Homo sapiens: one gene and its partners. The protein of the gene in region 1 purifies or fractionates together with the protein of each later gene. This does not show direct contact. Each region holds a gene or a part of one and is shown on either strand. Other genes may lie near its edges.

Evidence for each region.
Region 2: the proteins of SERPINB1 (region 1) and EIF4H fractionate together in Homo sapiens (co-fractionation; one large-scale study listed by BioGRID). This does not show direct contact.
Region 3: the proteins of SERPINB1 (region 1) and SLC25A13 purify together in Homo sapiens (co-immunoprecipitation; one large-scale study listed by IntAct). This does not show direct contact.
Region 4: the proteins of SERPINB1 (region 1) and STAP2 fractionate together in Homo sapiens (co-fractionation; one large-scale study listed by BioGRID). This does not show direct contact.
Region 5: the proteins of SERPINB1 (region 1) and ARHGAP18 fractionate together in Homo sapiens (co-fractionation; one large-scale study listed by BioGRID). This does not show direct contact.
Region 6: the proteins of SERPINB1 (region 1) and TES fractionate together in Homo sapiens (co-fractionation; one large-scale study listed by BioGRID). This does not show direct contact.

The regions. Positions count from the first base shown.
Region 1 is NC_000006.12:2,831,864-2,835,363, reverse strand, and holds the end of SERPINB1 (leukocyte elastase inhibitor), read left to right. Parts: intron 1-1,351; coding exon 1,352-1,756; 3' UTR 1,757-3,032; downstream 3,033-3,500.
Region 2 is NC_000007.14:74,194,476-74,197,596, reverse strand, and holds the end of EIF4H (eukaryotic translation initiation factor 4H), read right to left. Parts: intron 2,857-3,121; coding exon 2,719-2,856; intron 2,429-2,718; coding exon 2,289-2,428; 3' UTR 501-2,288; downstream 1-500. UniProt on the Homo sapiens protein: Stimulates the RNA helicase activity of EIF4A in the translation initiation complex. Binds weakly mRNA.
Region 3 is NC_000007.14:96,186,099-96,189,598, forward strand, and holds part of SLC25A13 (electrogenic aspartate/glutamate antiporter SLC25A13, mitochondrial), read right to left. Parts: coding exon 3,483-3,500; intron 3,281-3,482; coding exon 3,196-3,280; intron 1-3,195. UniProt on the Homo sapiens protein: Mitochondrial electrogenic aspartate/glutamate antiporter that favors efflux of aspartate and entry of glutamate and proton within the mitochondria as part of the malate-aspartate shuttle.
Region 4 is NC_000019.10:4,323,543-4,326,185, forward strand, and holds the end of STAP2 (signal-transducing adaptor protein 2), read right to left. Parts: intron 2,004-2,643; coding exon 1,854-2,003; intron 1,767-1,853; coding exon 1,674-1,766; intron 1,126-1,673; coding exon of another isoform or gene 988-1,125; coding exon 913-987; intron 656-912; coding exon 591-655; 3' UTR 501-590; downstream 1-500. Other genes in the region: FSD1 (fibronectin type III and SPRY domain-containing protein 1), read left to right, coding at 1-101. UniProt on the Homo sapiens protein: Substrate of protein kinase PTK6. May play a regulatory role in the acute-phase response in systemic inflammation and may modulate STAT3 activity.
Region 5 is NC_000006.12:129,707,378-129,711,641, forward strand, and holds the start of ARHGAP18 (rho GTPase-activating protein 18), read right to left. Parts: upstream 2,801-4,264; 5' UTR 2,760-2,800; coding exon 2,647-2,759; intron 1-2,646. UniProt on the Homo sapiens protein: Rho GTPase activating protein that suppresses F-actin polymerization by inhibiting Rho. Rho GTPase activating proteins act by converting Rho-type GTPases to an inactive GDP-bound state.
Region 6 is NC_000007.14:116,248,539-116,252,038, forward strand, and holds part of TES (testin), read left to right. Parts: intron 1-481; coding exon 482-734; intron 735-1,622; coding exon 1,623-1,958; intron 1,959-3,221; coding exon 3,222-3,437; intron 3,438-3,500. UniProt on the Homo sapiens protein: Scaffold protein that may play a role in cell adhesion, cell spreading and in the reorganization of the actin cytoskeleton. Plays a role in the regulation of cell proliferation. May act as a tumor suppressor. Inhibits tumor cell growth.

The DNA of each region.
Region 1 (3,500 bases):
GTGTAGCATATATCTTCATCACGTACTATAAAATTCTATTATTACACTGTTTGTTCTCATCACAATTCATATAGATAGTGAATTAAATTTTCAATGGGTACAAGACAGAAAAAGCCTCATGTGACATGTTAGGCCTATTTACTAGTATGATCTTTGCATGAGGTTTCCATTATATGTAGGGACTCTAGCCTGCTCTGTGCTCTCCGTCTCCTCCCTATCCACCTATTCATCATCCTTGCTATCAGGAAGGGGGTCTAATGTTAATCATTTGCATGTACAGACTTTTAATACATTGTATAACAATCAATGTGGCCTTTCTTTTGGTTGTATTTTTGCATTAGTTTTTTTTCTGATTGTAAAGTGAAAATCTCTAGCCTCTTAAAAGGAATTATCAGCACCATTAGAAGAAGTAGAGTGATGGTTCTATTCCAGTCCAATAGCTATAACAATAGTAATGATAATAGCTGACATTTATGTAGCACTATGGGCCAAGCACTTTATATACATCATTTCATTTAATGCTCTCAACAATCTATAAGGTAGATATAAGTAATGTCCACATCACATTTCAGATGAGGAACTAGCTCCAGTGCATAATCTGCCTTTAAAATTTTTACCTAGGAGCTAAAGTTATTAGATATTACTTCAGCTTCAGTGGGATTCAGACTAAATAGAAGAAATATTTTAAATTTCTTCTAGCACTACTCAACCTGGAAGTAATAGCAGCTGTCATGACCTATCACTGTAATCCATTGTGGTAGGGGTTTAGTAAACCCTGGATGAATGGATGGATGGATGAATGGGTAGATGGATGGGTGGATGGGTGGATGAGTAAATGGGTGGATGGATGATAGATAGGTGGATAGATTGTTGGATGGGTGGGTGGGTGGATAGGTGAATGGATGGATGGATGGGTGGATGGGTAGATGGATGATGAATAGGTGGATAGATGGTTGGATGGGTGGGTGGGTAGATAGGTGAATAAATGGATGGATGGATGGGTGGCTGTGTTGCTGGGTAGCTGGGTGGATGGATGGATGGATGGATGGATGGATGGATGGATGGATGAGTGGACAAATGGGTGGATGGATGGGTGGATGGGTGGGTGAGTGGATGATGGACCCAATGTACAAATCCCTTGAACCTTTGATGACTTGGAACACCACCTCTGCCCTATTTCACCAATTGCCATAATGAAATAAAATGCTCCAAATGGAATCTGTTTTGGCACAAAACATGAAGGAAACTAACTAGCAACTGATATTATGGGTCCATTGATTCAATAATACTTTATTGCCTTACTTATGTAAAATTGATATCACTTCCTCTTTCGCCTCATTTTTAATTGCAGATTGAGGAACAGTTGACTTTGGAAAAGTTGCATGAGTGGACTAAACCTGAGAATCTCGATTTCATTGAAGTTAATGTCAGCTTGCCCAGGTTCAAACTGGAAGAGAGTTACACTCTCAACTCCGACCTCGCCCGCCTAGGTGTGCAGGATCTCTTTAACAGTAGCAAGGCTGATCTGTCTGGCATGTCAGGAGCCAGAGATATTTTTATATCAAAAATTGTCCACAAGTCATTTGTGGAAGTGAATGAAGAGGGAACAGAGGCGGCAGCTGCCACAGCAGGCATCGCAACTTTCTGCATGTTGATGCCCGAAGAAAATTTCACTGCCGACCATCCATTCCTTTTCTTTATTCGGCATAATTCCTCAGGTAGCATCCTATTCTTGGGGAGATTTTCTTCCCCTTAGAAGAAAGAGACTGTAGCAATACAAAAATCAAGCTTAGTGCTTTATTACCTGAGTTTTTAATAGAGCCAATATGTCTTATATCTTTACCAATAAAACCACTGTTCAGAAACAAGTCTTTCATTTTCTTTGTAAGTTTGGCTCTGTTGGCTGTTTACACCCATGAATTTTGGCATGGGTATCTATTTTTCTTTTTTACATTGAAAAAAATCCAGTGGTTGCTTTTGAATGCATCAAGTAAAGAAGAAGAAAAGAATACATCCGATGCGTAGATTCTTGACCATGTAGTAATCTATAAAATTGCTATATCCTCCTGATAGCCATGGGAAAACATGATAAGATGGTCATTTATTTTGCAGTTAGAATTTTGGAAGCCACAAAATAGACAGACACCCTGACTGTTGAAGGGAGGTTTAAAAACAGATATTCAATTGAAATGTAAGAGAGCACCCCAATTGAGAGCCCAGGTTACGAAGACAAGCTTGCCTCGCCTGACTTTTCTGTCCCTTGTTCTGCAGGATTAGTATTCTGTTACAGACCTCTAGTTTTTAGACTCTTCAATTAAAGGGCCAATGGTTATAACCTGCATTCCCTTTTTTGTTCTTCTTTATGTATAATATATAGTTCATGTGGCGCTGCATGAAATCAAGAAGTGGGTGTCTTAGGATAAAAGATACCAAGAGTCTACAAAAATAACCATGTAGTAAGATAAACTGCTGAACAAAGGTTTTACTGTTAGCCACCTTCTCATGTGTTTTCTTTTCTCTTTTTCTTTTTCTTTCTTTCTTTCTTTTTTTTTTTTTTGAGACAGAGTCTTGCTCTGTTACCCAGGCTGGAGTGCAGTGGCACGATCTCAGCTCACCGCAACCTCTGCCTCCTGGGTTCAAGTGATTCTCTTGCTTCAGCCTCCTGAGTAGCTGGGATTATAGGCATGCACCACTAGGCCTGGCTAATTTTTGTATTTTTAGTAGAGATGGGGTTTTTCCATGTTGGCCAGGCTGGTCCCGAACTCCTGACCTCAGGTGATCCGCGCACCTCAGCCTCCCAAAGTGCTGGGATTACAGGCATGAGCTACCATGCCTGGCCTTCTCATGTGTTTTCTGATTAAGGCTCTTGACTTCCAAGGCTGTGTGGGGAGATGGGGTGGGGGCTCTTGGACTGATATAAAACTTTGTCAAATGTAGTTCTTTGAATGGAGCTTGAAACGCCGCATATTCTTGCTCCCACAAGGATAGTGGGCATCATGAATTAATAAAACGTCCTAGGATTCTGCAAGCTAGACTGGTCTCAGGCCTCTTCTTATTGCCCCCTATCCCTAGACAAGTTAAGACTGCAAGTGGGGATTATTGGCCTTACAACATTGTTGGTAGAGAGGAATTCCACATGTTAACAACAAAATTTTAGCAACTCTTTTGCCAACAAACTTTCTTTTCTCCCGCTTTCTTAAAATACTTACCATATTCCAGGTTTTCTCACTCTCAGGAAAAACTCTGCCTTCTGTAAGTCTTCTCTTTTGGTTCCTCATCCTAAAATCCACTCTGATTTGGAGTAAATCATGTTAATTGTGTAGAAACTGAATTGTAGGGGCCCAAGTGAGCCCGCTCAAATTATATATGAGGGAACAGGCCTATAGACTATAAGTAAATTGTTGAAGGTCAAAACAATTGGTGAGTTCCAGGGCAGAGACTAGAATCCAATGCGTATTTTATGTGGAGAGCATCTAATTTATGTAATGGTGAAATAGTTA
Region 2 (3,121 bases), on another chromosome or scaffold:
CCAGGACTTTGCCAAACACGCATTCATGCCCCGCACCTTGCCCACTCAGCTCTTCTTTGTCTGCCTAAGTCAATTTTAACACTATCCAATACCAACCTATAGCAGCACCTCCCCAGAGTCAGGATCTGCTGTCAGGAAGCAGCAGCCCTCCCAGCCATGAGGGGCACCTAGAATTTCGTTTACAAGCAGTTGTTAAAAGAAGCCACATGTTGTGTAAATGCTTGATTTCTTCCATCTTGGGAAAAAAATGTTCCTTTACCTAACCAAAAACAGCCAGACTTTCAAGGTTTCTGCCTGGTTGGGAAAAGGACATTTTTAGCAAGTGAGGGGAAAAAATTGGCATCCTATTTCTAATCATCACCAGCTTTTAAAATAACTTCACTCATCCCAGAATTAAAATGACAGGAAGACTCTTCCATTTCAATGGTGCTTCCCAAATTTAAAATTGTTACATTCCATGAGCAGCTAAAAAGAACTCAAAAATAAAGGCAAGCATTAAATATTACGTAAGGTTTTCTTTTATTTAAAAGATCATTCACAAAATACCATATCCATAGATTTACTTTCTGTCATATAGCTGAATGTGTTAAGTGTTTGGAATTCCATTCTTACATTTAAAAGTCAACTGGATTGCCCAGCAGTTTAGATGCATGTGTTTTGTTCTTTATCTTATCCACATTGAAGATGTAAGTAGGTCATCTGAAAGCATCGGGTTTGATTACACCACATAATGCATGTCTTTCTGAAGTTAAGTGTTGGTGTTACACAAATGGTTCTTATCTCAGAAGCAGAGAAGCTGACAGGTGGAAGGAAGGAGAGAGAGTTCTGTGGATTGCTGAGGCCTTGTAACAAGACACAGTAGGAAAAGCCCAGGATGACGGCTGGTGACCAAATACTAAGCACATTCCGCTGGGTGCCCCAGGCCACCCTGGCCCTGCCATCACCTGGCGAGGGCCTCTTTCCCAGGCTCCTGCTGCCGGCCGCCCCCAAACTGCTCCCCATAGGACAGACTGGGACTTGGGTACTGAAGGATTTTTCATCTGTTCACACGCAGGCGTTCAAGCTCAAAAGCCTAACCCCTAGCACTCCCACATAACTGCTGAACCCTGCACATGGGAACAGTCCAGTGTGTCCCCAAGATGTGGCCGCAGACCTAGACAGCTGCAGTCCTCTACTGCTATCTGAAGGTTCCTGACAGCTCTGCATAGTACAATTTATCAAAGGAAATGAGTAAAGTGCCAGATTCTAGACCCATTTTGGCTCTGAACTGAAGGGGAGGTGGGAAGCACAGTATCTCATTATGTTGCCTATACTAGGAACAGATCCACACAACACACAGGCAACAGGGATGGGGGGAAACGCTGCGTCAGCGCCGCAGTCAGCCCAGTGCAGCACCAGCACCACCCCCTCCACCCCCAAAGCGCCTTGGCCCAGCAGAAAAGAAACCCGCTGGCCATTCACTGCACCCAGCCAGAGAGGCCAGCCTCCACCACGCACGGCGAAAGGAGTGAACTAGCTGGGACACACACACGTGTGAATGCATGCAAGCATTCACTGCATCTTCTCCGTGGACTCCCTACCGCTCTTCCATAGCCCCCCCTTTCAGCCTCACTGTTTCTCGTGTGAGCCTATCTGCTTGGACAGTCCACTCGGGAGGGGGTCATGGAGCCAGGACTCCCTCTAAATAGGAATGGAAAGGACCCTGCAGATATTTTTATCCTAGTTGTGAAAACAAGGTGCCTCTGATTCTCTATATCCATCACAGCTGAATACCAACAAGGTCTCTGCTGTTCCCTCTGTCAGTGACTCTGGTTTTTGTTGGAAGCCCCAGCAATACAGAACTCAACATGCAGGTCAGAAGAGAAGCACTGAGGGAATGAAAGGAAACGCCTGGAGTTGGGCCAGTGTCTAAAGTAAAGAGAAAGCAAAGGAAAAATGACGCAGCACCGCAGCCCAAACGCCCCCCCACGGCGGCCACCTCTGCTCCTCCGAGGAACCCCATGTGCTGCTGGGAAAACAAGGAGCAGGAGAAAAAGGACAGAAGGAAAATGGGGAAGCAGCGGAAGAAAGAAAAAAACGCACAAACAGGCACTAGATAGATACAGCAAAGCCCAGAATGTACTAAAAACCACTTGTTAACAGCTGACATGCACTCACAAGCTGTGTTTCCGCTGTGAGGAGGCCAATGGCAGGCGCAGGAGTGGCGGCTGCAGGACGGCTGCCCGGGGACTCACCAGGCTGTGGTCCTGCTCTAACCCCCCACGCCCCATTCCCTCCCAACCGCAGGCTCATTCTTGCTCCTTTTGAACGACTTCCTCTCTAGGCCTGGCACCCCCGAAGATAGCAGAGTTGGGATTGGCTACTTGATTGAGGGGCGTCGCGACTGTTCGAGGTTTAAGCTGGAGTCGTGGTCTCTGTGCTCTTTCCTCTGGGGGAGAAAAAGCAGAGTTTGTCAGAGTGTGGATCCCATTCCATATCCAGCAAAACGACCATGCTGATGTTGCTGTCAGCAAACCAGCCCACTTTCTAAAATTCACCTGGCCTGCTACCCCAACAGCAGATGCTCTAATGACCAAGGTGAACTTGCTATTCCAGAGAACGTGGGGATCTATGCCGACAACTCTGTGTGCCGTAGAACGCCAAGTCCCCACGGGGTGTGAACCGGCCATGATCATCCCATCAGGACAAGATGCCCTCCACTGACACATGAGCCCGTACCTTCTGTGGGTTCTCTGAAATCCATGTTGGATCCACGGAGGGGAGGGCCATCTCTGAAGCGGCTGCCCATGGGGGGGCCTGTTCGCCGGTCGCCTGGGCGACTACCTCCCCTGCCCCCTAAGAAGTCATCCCTGAAGCCTGAGGAAGAAACAGGACACTGAATTACTTTTCAAACTATCGTCTCCAAGCTGCTTATAGAATAATGTTCTGGGAATTGTTTGAGTTTCATTTTAAATTCTTTAGTTTGTCCACTATCTGAAGTCTCTCCAAAATAAAGTGTGTTAAAAGTGGGTCCAAATGCCAATGTGTGGAGTAATGACAGCGCTAACAGACTTCCCAAAGAAAAAGGAATCAAGATCTTAGGAGAGCAAACAAACGAGCTGTTTACATGCTCAGCTTGCAT
Region 3 (3,500 bases), on another chromosome or scaffold:
AATATACACCCAAACCCTTAAAATGTACATAACCTCTGAAGTTAGAATAGGCTGGGTGCAGTGGCTCACACCTGTAATCCCAGCACTTTGGGAGGCCGAGGTGGGTGGATCACTTGAGGTCAGGAGTTCGAGACCAGCCTGACCACCATGGAGAAACCCCGTCTCTTCTAAAAATAAAAAATTAGCCGGACGTGGTGGCGCATGCCTGTAATCTCAGCTACTTGGGAGGCTGAGGCAGGAGAATCACTTGAACCTGGGAGGCGGAGGCTGCAGTGAGCCAAGATCGCGCCACTGCACTCCAGCCTGGGCAAGAAGAGTGAAACTCCGTCTCAAAAAGAAAAAAGTTAGGATAGAAGATAATCATGCATGTAACAAGCTACAAGAATGTAGCACTTAAAAAACATTTGTAGTACTTATTGGAAATTTCGATTATTTCCCAAATTTTTGCTCTTTAAACAAAAAGAACAAAAATTTGGGAAATATTCTAAATGTCCAATAACGGAGGACTATAGCCTTTAAAAATAATAACTTTAAAACAAAACCCTATCATTCAAAATGATACTGTAAAAGAATATTTGATATTAAATGTTCACAAGGAATTATAAAAGAAAACATAGGCTAAAAAGAGCATGGTAAGTAGATAGGTATTTGTCATATGATTCTTTGTACCTATTTAAATGTTTGACCTATTTCCTGGTAATTTTTTTAAAAACAATTTTTAAGACTATATACAAAATGATGTCACTTTTTATTAAAAATGCTTGTAAGAGGTTTACATATATATGCATATAAAATTAATACTAATATTTTGCCTCCCTACCACCCAGAGATACTCAAAACATTTACAGTAGCTAAAACTAGGTGGCTGTATTACAGTTGATCGTTACTTTTTCTCTTTTTTTGTCCATCTTTTCTAAATTCATACTTCAGGTCAGTCAGTCATTGTTTTCTGGTTCTTTTGACCTATTATCCTCACAGTGTTTTTGATGCCAGAACATTTCAGAGTGCTGCACTTCTCTGTCTGCATAAATAAAACAGTAATTTTATGTCACAGAGAGTTGTCAAATGAGGGTGACATATAGTCAGTGCTTAATAAATACCTGTTGAATGAATACATACATTCAATAAAATTTGTTTTTCAGAATCCATGATAATTAAAATCAGTGAACAATGAAAATAATCAGCAACCCCAGCTATCAACCCACTGAATTTTAGTTGCTGTCAATGTAACACAATTCTAATACAATGAGATCATTTGGAATCTCCTTCAAAGTCACTTAACTGAAAATAGCTTTACATAGAAATATGCCTCTTTAAGATACAAAACATTTCTTTTGCAAATTCTATGAGTTGTTTCCAACTGTAGCCCTATATAGATGGAAATCAATAGTACCTTCATTTTGACAGATGCATCCAAAAGAGAAGCAATATTTTATTTACAGGGATATAAATATGCAATACTTAGAAATGTTCTGGCATCAAAATAATGAGTGAAAATACTCTGAAAATTATAGAGGGTGGGGGGAGGAGGGACCTACCACCACCATTAATTCCTCTCCTAAAAGACAAATGAAATCCTAGACTTTTATTTAACTTTTCCAAAGCCAGAACTGTAGCATGTTCTTGAAATGAGACAAAACTCTGCTCCTTCACTCCTCTGTCCAGGATAAATGCTACAAGTGCTGCACAGTGCTGGACAGGCAGCGCTGTGCCCACAGGTGGACGACCTCCCTTGCTTGAATTTGTCGGGCCCACTAGGGTTCATGCAGTAAAAAGCCTATTCCAGGTAAGGCCATTGTGAATTGCTCTAAACCTCTAAGCGGCAGCGAATCATTTCCTGCTATAAATCTCATCAATCTGGTCTAACCCTTTCATGGCCAGTATCAACAAGCACCCATCATAAACTCTCAAAAGCTGCAAAGAGCTTAAAGGAAAAATTGTGGGAAGCCGCTGCCAGCTGAAGAGTAGGAGGGATCTAAAAAAAACTTCTCTGCTTCTCTTAATCCCCAAATTTCTACAATAGCTGGTGGCATACAGACGAAGAGATAATCATCTCCTAAGCAGTGTTAAAAATCAAAGGGAAGGGAGAGCAGTGTTGCTTCCACCTCTACACGTGATTATAGTTATTTCTCCTGCACTCAGAGAAATCGGCTTCCTCTTTTAAGCAAGGCCAGCTGGTTTTCCAGAGGTGCTCGTTAGAATTTACTGAGCACACACCCACTACTTTGACTTGCATGCTGCACACAAAACTCACCGCTGCATTTGGGTGGGAAAGAGCTAAAAGAAGGGGGCCCTGGCTCAAGGTCTGACAGTCCTAAAAGTGTAGCCTGCAGCAACCCATTGTGGTCACACTGGCGTCTCTGTACAAACCCAGAGCTCCATGCCAGAAACTGCGAAGTCTCACAGGATTCAGAGATGGCTCTGCCTAAAAGGAGAAATTTTTCTAAAAACGACACTCGCCTGTGAGTGGATTTATTTTACAAACACCATTTATTTTACTAACACATGCTATGAAGGCTTTTCTTCTCTAATCCTGATCTACAGAAAGCTGGGTAAGAGTTAAAGGAGAAAGTTCCATGTCTTAAGTTTCTGACTCCCACAACTTCAAGAGATTGGTTTCTGTTAACCATAAAATAAAATTTAGCATTCCTAAAATTGTTTCCATATAACTTATGAATCCTTTCACAGAGAAAATAGGTCTGAAAGCCTTTAAACTGTAACTCCAGACTAAACAAAATTATCTCATTTTGATATTCAGAAAAACGGAAGGCATGGCAGTTAGACGATGCGCTGATGAAGGGCTGCTCCACAGAGCAAAGACGGCTTTCATTTAGCAACGTGCAGCTGCCGACAGGCACAGTGACACCAACACGGGATTCTTTCGCTACATCTCTCAACATGAGACTTCAAGAAAGGAGAAAAGACCTCCTTCATGTTTTCGGAGCATTAGGCTTCTGGTGCAGTTAGGAAATCACTCCACCTTAGCAAGAAATGAGCAAATGCCAAATACCTGTTTATCACACCATTTCTAAGCAATTTCTCTTTACAGCCTTTAAAATTTATCGAGAGTTTTGGTGCAAAACAGAAAAATGGTTAAGTCAGATACCAATGCCGCAAAGGCAACTGCAAGTGGAACAGGGTTGGGGTATCCTGCTAAGGAAACCCCAGAATGCAAGTTTGCTCCTCTTTGCTCACCTGCCTCTGGGCCTCAGCCAAGTTAAAGGGCAGAGTTCCCTCTTCCAGAGGAGCAATCCGTTCAATGTCTGCTAAGGTCATACGTCTGTAGGGGAAAAACAAACACAAGCAACAAATATACCAATTTATTACAATTTACATTATAAAATTTAAAAACATCCCTTTTTTCATTTCTCATATTTCAGTATAGCCTTCAGTTTGGCTTCTTTTTCTCCTGATTGCTGCCCTCCTCCTAACCTCCTTTTATTAAGCTAATTCCAAAAAAAAAAAAAAAAAAGCCAACTTACCCCCTTGGCTCATATAAA
Region 4 (2,643 bases), on another chromosome or scaffold:
GCAGCTTCCAGGTGACGACAGGCCTGCAGGTCCCCAGTGCTGTGCGCTGCCTGCAAAAGCGAGGCAGTGCTACCAGCAGCTCCAACACCAGCCTCACCTAGGCCCCCAGGCACCCACCCAGCTGGGGTGTTTTTGGGGGAGTCGCCGCCAAGCCCAGGCTGCTGGAGCCAGGCACCCTCCTCTGTCACTTGCTGCTTGGAGCCTTAACTCCAGATGGGGGGGTCACCAAGAGGGAGTGGGCACCCTGGCGGGCCCTCTCCCCACCTCACCTCTTAATAAAGGTCAGACACTGGCCAGGCGAGGCCGCGGTGCTGGTTCTTTGGGCCTGGGTGTGGCACCGGGACCTCATCCTTCCCAGCTGTAAAATGGGCTTTTCTCACAGAATATGGTGGTAGATTTCACTGAGCTGAGGGTCACTGGGAGTAAATGGGGCCATCCGTAGGCAGACATCTGACGGACCCCTCGTCCCCTAATCCCCCAAGCCAAGCCAGACACATGGGTCCTGGGGTCAGAGTTTTAATCCTGGGAAAAAGAATCTGGCCGCTGGGCCATGCCCTGGGACTAGCCCGCTGGTCCCTGGTGTGTCCGAATCAGTGCTCCAGTGCCCGCCTCTTCTCCAGCTTCTTCTGTAGCTCTGCCGTCATGTCTGCCAGCCCTGGGGGTTCAGGACCAGGAGCTGCAGCTGGCTCAGGGATCCCCAGTCCATGCCCACCGCCCTGACAGCCACCCAGGACCAGCTACAGATTTGCAGGGCCCCGTGCAACAGGACAGTGTGCTCGAAGGCATTAAGAATTTCAAGACAGAGACAGCAGAACCTTAAAAGACAGGGCGCTTCGGAGTGTGGGGACTTGTGTGACTGTACGGTCACACACCTGGGAAGCCCGCCCCGCACTGACCCCGCAGACCCCTTACCGGCTGTGGGGAAGAGAGGCTGGGCTGAACTGACTGGCAGCTTCCTGCCCAAGCCACCATTAAAGACTTTGGGCTCTGGAAGAGAAGACAGATGAGGCCAGGTGTGGTGGCTCACGCCGGTAATCCCAGCACTTTGGGAGGCTGAGGTGGGTGGATCACTTGAGGTCAGGAGTTCGAGACCAGCCTGGGCAACATGGTGAAACCCCTTCTCTACTAAAAATACAAAAATTAGATGGACGTGGTGGCAGGTGCCTGTAATCCCAGCTACTTGGGAGGCTGAGGCAGGAGAATCACTTGAACCCGGCAGACAGAGGTTGCAGTGAGCTGAGATCGCGCCACTGCCTGGGCAACAGAGTGAGACTCCATCTCAAAACAAAAAACAACAATAAAGACAGATGAGCTGGGTGCGGTGGCTCACGCCTGTAATCCCAGCACTTTGGGAGGCCGAGGTGGGCGGATCACGAGGTCAGGAGATCAAGACCATCCTGGCTAACATGGTGAAACCCCGTCTCTACTAAAAATACAAAAAAAAAAATTAGCTGGGCATGGTGGCGGGCACCTGTAGTCCCAGCTACTGGAGAGGCTGAGGCAGGAGAATGGCGTGAACCCAGGAGGCGGAGCTTGCAGTGAGCCAAGGTTGTGCCACTGCACTCCAGCCTGGGCGACAGAGTGAGACTGTCTCAAAAAAAAAAAAAAAAGTCAGATGAGGGCTGAGGCTGGCCTGCCATCAGGTGAGGGTGGGATATGGGGGGGACCCCAACCTGGCTTGGGTCCAACGGGTGGCTTTGGAAGCTTGGCAGGAGGCTTTGGCAACTTCTTTGGCTTCAGGATGACTGGCCAACTAGAGGAAGCCACTGCGTGGACAAAAGTGTAACGTGTCACATCAGCTGTTAACCTGTTTCCCCAACCCCCAGCTCTCAGCAGCTCTGTTCCCCACCCACCATCTTGGTTCTCATAGTCAACAGCTGGGCCATCTCCAATGGGGGTCACGTAGTTCTCTTCCTGGTTCGGTAGTGGGGGCAGTGGGGGCAGCTTGTCCTGGCTAGACGCAGGTGACAGCGGCTTGGGGCCACCTGTGCAGGGTGCAGGACCTGATGGGGAAACGTGGTCACTGTCAAGACCCATGTCATACAGGGACACCTTGCAGGTTGGCGGGGGGGTCTGTGTGCATGCCTGGAGACAGGCATGTGTCCCTGTGTGTCTGTGTGTGTGCCCATGTATAAGTCTGTGTCTGGGCCGGGCGCGGTGGCTCACGCCTGTAATCCCAGCACTTTGGGAGGCCAGGGTGGGCGGATCACCTGAGGTCAGGGGTTCAAGACCAGCCTGGCCAATATGGTGAAACCCCGTCTCTACTAAAAATACAAAAATTAGCTTGGCGTGGTGGCAGGCTCCTGTAATCGCAGCTACTCGGGGCTGAGGCAGGAGAATCGCTTGAACCTGGGAGGGAGAGGTTGCAGTGAGCCGAGATTGCGCCACTGCACTCCAGCCTGGGTGACAGAGCAAGACTCCATCTCAAAAAAAAAAAAAAGTCTTTGTGTGGCATACACGTGTACACTAATTGAATCTAGATAAGTTAAAGTGCAACGTTTGTACACACACACCTGTGGTGTGTATACGTGTGTGACTGCACGCCTGCTGAGGTGGCTGCTTTAGTCCTTGTCTACATGAGTGCGTTTTGCCCGTGTATCTACACGTGTCCGAGTTTGTGCCGGTGCACGGACGTATCTGCAT
Region 5 (4,264 bases), about 130 Mb from region 1:
GTGATAAGAAAAGTTATACTTCCGTGCTATCTTCTATAATTTTTAAATGGGTAGGAGGAAATGCAGAATCTAATTTAGCTTTTATTTTTTATTTATTTATTTATTTTTTGAGACAGGGTCTCACTCCCTCACCCAGGCTGGAGTGCAGTGGCGTGATCTCAGCTCACTGCAATCTCTGCTCCACCAGCCTCAAGTGATCCTCACACTTCAGCCTCCTGAGTAGCTGGGACCACGGGCATGCACTACCATTTCTAGTTTGTTTGTGGTTTCTTGTTTTTTTTTTTTTTTTTGTATTTTTGGTAGAGCTGTGGGGGCGGGGGTCTTTTTTTTGCCCAGGCTGGTCTCTAACTCCTGAGCTCAAGCAATCCACCCACCTCAGCTTCCCAAAGTGCTGAGATGACAGGTGTGAGCCATCACACCCAGCCTAATGTAGCCTTTTTAAGAGTTTTGTTTTGTTTTTACTTTTTGGAGAACTTCTTTAAATAGGCATCAACCATCAACCTTGCACCTTGGAGCAGCTTCCCAGGGCTTAAAACAACACCTGACCAACCCAGCCAAAGCCAAAGCCAAAGTCCAGTTCACCGCCCCGAAACCACTATCACCATTCTTAGGTGGTCACCGAGGACCCCATCCCACCTTCAAATCCTCCTTCCTTCTATCCATCCCCTCCCCCATAGCAATTACAGTATCTCAATCCTTTCAGGCTAAACAGGGTATCTCCCAAAACAACAACAAGTTTATCTGATTCGTTAGCCCTTAAGGGTAAAAGCCATTGAAAACTAGCCCTACTCCCTCCTTCCTCCCTGCCCTCAAACCAGGCTCCCATCTTCTCCGGTCAATATCAGGAACGATCCCTAGAACTAATTCAGTGGTGGGAAGTTGGGTCTGGTATGGGCAGGCTACGTGACAGCCAGCAAAGGAGCTCACCTGGAGCTGTGGCCCCACACAGGGCACTTGCCGTGTGGGCAGCTGCCCACCCTGCCACCTTAGTGCCTCTTGGTTCTGCTTCAGCCTAGGCAGAGAATGATCTGATCCTCTCTTATTCTCTCAACCCACTCAAGTATGGGCCACCCACACTGCAAACACAGAATAATGAGTCTCCAGAACTGGAGATGCAGCCCCAGACAAAGGCCTAGAACTCCAGACCTTCCAAAAACTTAACTAATCCCTGGGGTTTGAGTCCTACGTGAAAATGAGAGGTTAGGACTCAGTCCTTAAGGTCCTTTCCATTCTCACAATCAAGATCCAAGATTCAGCTCAGGTCCTCAGGCCATTCAGCCTAAAGTCGGAGAATGTCCTGAGCTTGTATAATTTTGGCAATTTTGACTGACATGTGGAATCCAAGTTATGGCTGGGTATGGGGTTGGTGTTGCAGGCTGCTTTACTGCTTAATGATTACTAATACATTACAGAAAAATGGATGAAAACACTTCAAGATCTCTTGATTTAATGATTTAACATTAAGTCATTTAAAATGATGGAAAATGAAATGGTAACACAGCTAAGGCACAAGCACCAAATCTTTTTTATCTTTGGAAATGAATTCATTCAATGAAATACATACTGTGGATGCTATGTGAGAAACAGTTCCCGTCAGCTGGGAGTCTAACACTGAGTATTACAGCCATTCCTTTGATTTTTCTCCCTCCCTCATATTTGGAGATTTTAAAACAAATGAAAGGCAGCATTATTTCAGCTTAAGGCACAGGCATAAGTCACATAAGAACAAAGAAGGTTTTATTATCACATTAAGCATTGAGGAGGAAATGTGCTTACCGATAACTAATTTAGTGTTCTAGGCTATTAGGTTAGTATTTGCTTCTTGCAATCTTCTAGGCCAATATTTACTATTTATATCTTGATGGAGGTAAAAATGTTCAGCTAGTGAGAAGGTCATTAAGGAGAGAAAGAAAAAAAAAAGCCCTTGGAAAATGGAACAAAGTACACAGATAGGGAGAAAGGTACCCTTTGCGCCTCAGTGGTCTATAGAACATTTGCCCTCTCTGCCTATAAAGTGATTTAACATTAACCACATTTCACTCCAGCAGCAGAGTGCTATCTCCTGACAAAAACTCCTTTTTGAAAGCCTGGGGGAAAAAAAATCCACATACACAAAAGAATGTGAAACATATTGCCACAGGCCAGTGTCTTGGGCTTTTTGCCTAAGAGGTTTGCTTTCAGCAAAGAGAGGGGGGAAAAAAAACACTCTAACAACAACAGCTTGTACAGTACAGTGAACAGCCTCCCTGCTTTTTGGCAGACTTTCCCAGCGAACAGTTCCAGTGGCAGTGCCTTGAGCCCATTCAAGAATTCCATTTCATAGGAAAGGAAGTGTTTCAGATAGACCTATTTGATCTTTCAGCATGTGCAAATGCACCTGCTAAATAGCTAGTCTGACAGCCCATATAGCCCTCTCCCCAGTTCCTTCTTCTCTGTCTTCACCAGTAATCATATGGGTTATTTCAGACTTGGACTAGGTGAGATGAAAAGTACATAAAAATCACGCCAAACGTTGCTACTGCTGCTGCACGAGCTCAGGCTCGACGTGCAGATGGAATTCCCTTCTCCCCACGCCAACTTCCCTGTCACTTTCTTCCTGGAGCAGGTAAGAGGGTTTTGTTTTGTTTTCAGCTTCCGAAGGCTTACCTCGAGGTGGCTTCCTCCCCTGCCTTTGCATGGCTGTTCCCGACGGTCTGGTCCTTGCCGCTGGGGTGGTAGGCTGTTAGTACCACTCCCTGGGAACTGGAGAGCCAGCTCATGGTGAGAGAAGGGACATACTTTCTGCGATCCTGACACAGAGAAGGGGAAAGAAGTTCCTGTCTCGCCTGGCAACTCGCTCATTAGCATTGGCCAGCTCCTCCCCGCAGGCTGGCGATTCACACGGGGAGGGGCGGGGTCTGTCCAGGGAAGGGCTTCCTGCCTCTCCAATTAGAAGCTGCAACTCACAGCATGGTTTCAACTCTGGACAATTGCACTCTGGGCGGCTTTGGTTAAAGGAGGCGAAGGGTGGAAGCGACGGGTTGCACCCACCCCCAAGTTAGTCTGATCAGATTAAACTGCCAGAACGTATATTCAACTCATCACTGTAACTACAAGCCGTCTTACTTAGGAAACCATGAGTTGCTGCCAAGGCTTTTTTTTTTCCCTCCCCAATTCCTCTATCTTATAATTTCTGCTACTTAATGTAACATGAGTAAAGGCATTTCTTAACCCCTTCATGTTCAGCGTTAAAATTAGCCATAGTAAAAAACAACGAACCCGCGGCAAAACTCTGCAATCCAGACGACGAGAAAGGCTTGATCCTTGTGTCCGGTTAAAAATGCCCTCATAAAAATTGTGTGTCCTGGAATGTCGTCGTCTTTCACATAAAGCCAATCTCAAATATACGTCTTGTTTTAGCAAAATATTTTTCAGCACCAAAAAGGGATAGACCTACCAATGCTCTGTTAAGTGTTATTGCTGAGAACAAGAGAAGTCCCTGCCATTTGTTGAGCACCTACTATATGCCAAGCTCTCATGGACGGGGGTTTCACATGTATTATCTCATTCCATTCAATTCTCTCTCTCTCACACACACACACACACCGTACAAGATAGGTATCACTATCATCTGTGTTATACATAACACAAGGAAAGTAAGGCTGAGGGACGAGTTAAGTAACTTCACTAAGATAACACAGTTGCTAGTGCCAGAAGCTGGATTTGAACAGAATTCTAGGCTACATTCCTTTTATTTTTCACCAGTATGCTCTTCTTTGTTTTGCAGATTAAGAAACAAGATCAAAATTATCATAAACACAAAAGACAGCTCTGTTCTTTCTCCCCATCTCCCCTCCAAAAAAAAAAATCACTTTTTTGGTTTGTTTTTGAATCAGGGTCTCACTCTGTCACCCAGGCTGGAGTACAGTGGTGATTGTAACTCACTGCAGCCTCAACCTCCCAGGCTCAAGAAATCCTCCAGCCTCAGCCTCCCCAATAGCTAAGACCACAGGCATGCACTACCACGCCCAGCTAATTTTTTTATGCTTTGTGGAGAGGGAGGGTCTCACTGTGTTGCCCAGGCTGGTCTTGAACTCCTGGGCTCAAGCAATCCTCTTGGCTCAAGCTCCCAAAGTATTGAGATTACAGGCATGAGCCACCACGCCTGGCTTCTACTCTGACATACCCAGTAGTCTGAAGGTTTTTTTAGATTTTTATGATTCATTCAACTCTCTAGAATTCCTCTTGAACAAGTTTCCAATTCCATCATTACATAAACTTATTG
Region 6 (3,500 bases), on another chromosome or scaffold:
TGATATTGAGCATGTTTTCATATATTTTTTGGCCATATGTATATCTTCTTTTGAGAAATATCTGTTCATGTCCTTTGCCCATTTTTTAATGGGGTTGTCTTTTGCTTGTTGAATTGTTCCTTATAGATTCTGAATATTAGACCTTTGTCAGTTGCAGGATTTGCAAATATTTTCTTCCATTCTATAGGTTGTCTGTTTGTCCTGTTGCCAGTTTCTTTTGCTTTGTAGAAGCTCTTCAGTTTAATTGGGTCCCTCTTTCAATTTTTACAACCTAGCTTTTAAAAGCCTTATCAAGCAAAGTCGTGTTTTGTTTCCTTCTTGCTTAAATATATGGATACTTATTCTCCCTCCTAAAAAAGGACTTGCCTTTGCATACCATGATATAGAATAGGCCTAAAAGTATTTTATGAACTATAAATGTATGAACATAAATATCAATTAGGTACAATTAATCATTTTCTACTTATTTTCAAAATTATAGAAAAATATGTCGTAACTGCAAGTGTGGCCAAGAAGAGCATGATGTCCTCTTGAGCAATGAAGAGGATCGAAAAGTGGGAAAACTTTTTGAAGACACCAAGTATACCACTCTGATTGCAAAACTAAAGTCAGATGGAATTCCCATGTATAAACGCAATGTTATGATATTGACGAATCCAGTTGCTGCCAAGAAGAATGTCTCCATCAATACAGTTACCTATGAGTGGGCTCCTCCTGTCCAGAATCAAGCATTGGTAAATGATATGGAACAGAGAGTTTCTTTATTGAAGTTCCTGGAGTATTTATTTGGGGCAGTTTCTTTGATGACCTAATCAACTTCACACATCCCAGATCTGTTATTCTTCCGGGGTTCTCATTACTTTGACTTCTGATTCCTGTTCTAGTCTTTTGAATGTAAGACTAGATACTTCATAAAATTTTTCCAACTCCCTAGATATGTTTACCTTTTTGAGGGAATGGTCTAACGTTCTTAATAATTAGATGGAAATCAGATGTTTTATATCAATCTAGTAACTCTTCTAGCTTAGTCTTGAGAGGATTTATCTTAAGATGGTAAAGAAGAGAATTTTTGTCATAGTTTAGAACTGAAAAAAATATTCAACATTATCTTTGTGTTTTTTTCATTTCCTTTATTAATACTATATAAGACCAAAAAGATCACAGTTTTATATCAAGCTCCTTCCACTATTATAACAACCAAATGAAACATTTGGAAGTCTTTTAAGGTTAGTTAAATCATTAAAGTGAATTTTGCGATATCATTTTTTATGTAATAAAAATGTTCCTGGTCCTACAGACCATTCCAAACATGTCTGCCTAAAAGTTTATGTTTTCTTTCAATTGTACATTTGTTTATTTAGCTTAAGTAAACAGTAGTAACTCAGATCTTACAAACTGAAAAAATATATAATTTCATGGAGAGAAAGTGTTACTTTTTACCCAACTAAATCTATTTAGTGTACCGTTTTTGAGTTTTAACTTCTTAATATACTGTGAGGGTGAGTTGCTGCTATTGGATAGAACCCACTTCTTTCTTAAGTAACTTGCTTCTGATGTGTGTTATGAAACATCACACTGCCTAATGGCCAATCCCAGTTAACATTGGCCTCCTTGTGGTTCAGGCCAGGCAGTACATGCAGATGCTACCCAAGGAAAAGCAGCCAGTAGCAGGCTCAGAGGGGGCACAGTACCGGAAGAAGCAGCTGGCAAAGCAGCTCCCTGCACATGACCAGGACCCTTCAAAGTGCCATGAGTTGTCTCCCAGAGAGGTGAAGGAGATGGAGCAGTTTGTGAAGAAATATAAGAGCGAAGCTCTGGGAGTAGGAGATGTCAAACTTCCCTGTGAGATGGATGCCCAAGGCCCCAAACAAATGAACATTCCTGGAGGGGATAGAAGCACCCCAGCAGCAGTGGGGGCCATGGAGGACAAATCTGCTGAGCACAAAAGAACTCAATATGTAAGTAGAGTGGTCACACTGTTAGCCTGATTTGTATACTTTACAGAATTTTTTTCCCTTACTTTGAACTTTTTTGGGGACTATTCCTCTGAGTTTCCAAAAGGGAATAAGTATGGGGAATAAATAGGATTTAGATTCAGTTTAGACTTCCCACAGAGGGTCATCGTGTTTGAAACTTCTGTCTAAAGCCAAATTTTCTATGTATTTATTATCAAGGATAATTGTGGATAGTGAGTTTTATGTACAGACAGTAGTTGGTATTGGCATGCTGATCAAAGACAGCATTATTATTCTATAGTCTGTTTCTAATCATAATGTTGGTATTAATTGCTTATCTCTGCTGCCCATAAATAGGAATATATGCTTAGGTTAATTCAGTTTTGCTTGTGAGAACGTGCCTAAAATTCAAACTTAAATTTAATTTTTGTGGATATATAGTGAAGCTTTTTTTTAAGTCTCTTCTAAAGGGAGAAATTGAAGTATTTTGCTAATGACTTGATGGTAGGAGGCAATTATGACACAGATGAACAGACATAAGAACTAAACCTGCTGTAATATATTCCTCATAGCTCCAGTTAGCACACCAACCAATAAGGCTTAGTCCTGAAAAAAGAGCACTAATAAGCCCTGAGGTGATAGTTTTAGAGAATCTACTTAAAATTGACCTGAAAATTACTATTTTCCTTTTTCCATAAGTGACCTTAATTCAGGAAATAATGCCTGTTACACACAGGGTGAATGAAGTAGATTTGAATAGCCGGGAGAAAGCTGAGATTCCATTTCACAGAATTATTAATACGTTATTATCTACATCGACAAATTTGTAATTTCAGTAGAAATTATGTCTCTTCAAAGTTGTTTCTCTGAATTTCTACTGAAGTCAATGATAAGAAATGGCAGTCTTAGCTGGGCACAGTGGCTCACGCCTGTAATCCCAGCACTTTGGGAGGCTGAGGCGGGTGAATCACGAGGTCAGGAGATTGAGACCATCCTGGCTAACACGGTGAAACCCCGTCTCTACTAAAAATACAAAAAAATTAGCCGGGCGTGGTGGCAGGCGCCTGTAGTCCCAGCTACTCGGGAGGCTGAGGCAGGAGAACGGCGTGAACCCAGGAGGCGGAGCTTGCAATGAGCCGAGATAGCACCACTGGACTCCAGCCTGGGCGACAGAGTGAGACTCAGTCTCAAAAAAAAAAAAAGAAAGAAAGAAAAGAAATGGCAGTCTTCTAATGACTAGGTTGTTCTGGATGGCTTCCCTTTCAGTCCTGCTATTGCTGCAAACTGAGTATGAAAGAAGGTGACCCAGCCATCTATGCCGAAAGGGCTGGCTATGATAAACTGTGGCACCCAGCTTGTTTTGTCTGCAGCACCTGCCATGAACTCCTGGTTGACATGATTTATTTTTGGAAGAATGAGAAGCTATACTGTGGCAGACATTACTGTGACAGCGAGAAACCCCGATGTGCTGGCTGTGACGAGGTATGTTCTATGGGACCACCGGCATGCTGGTGCCCTCTTAGACCCTCATATGGTCCCTTTACC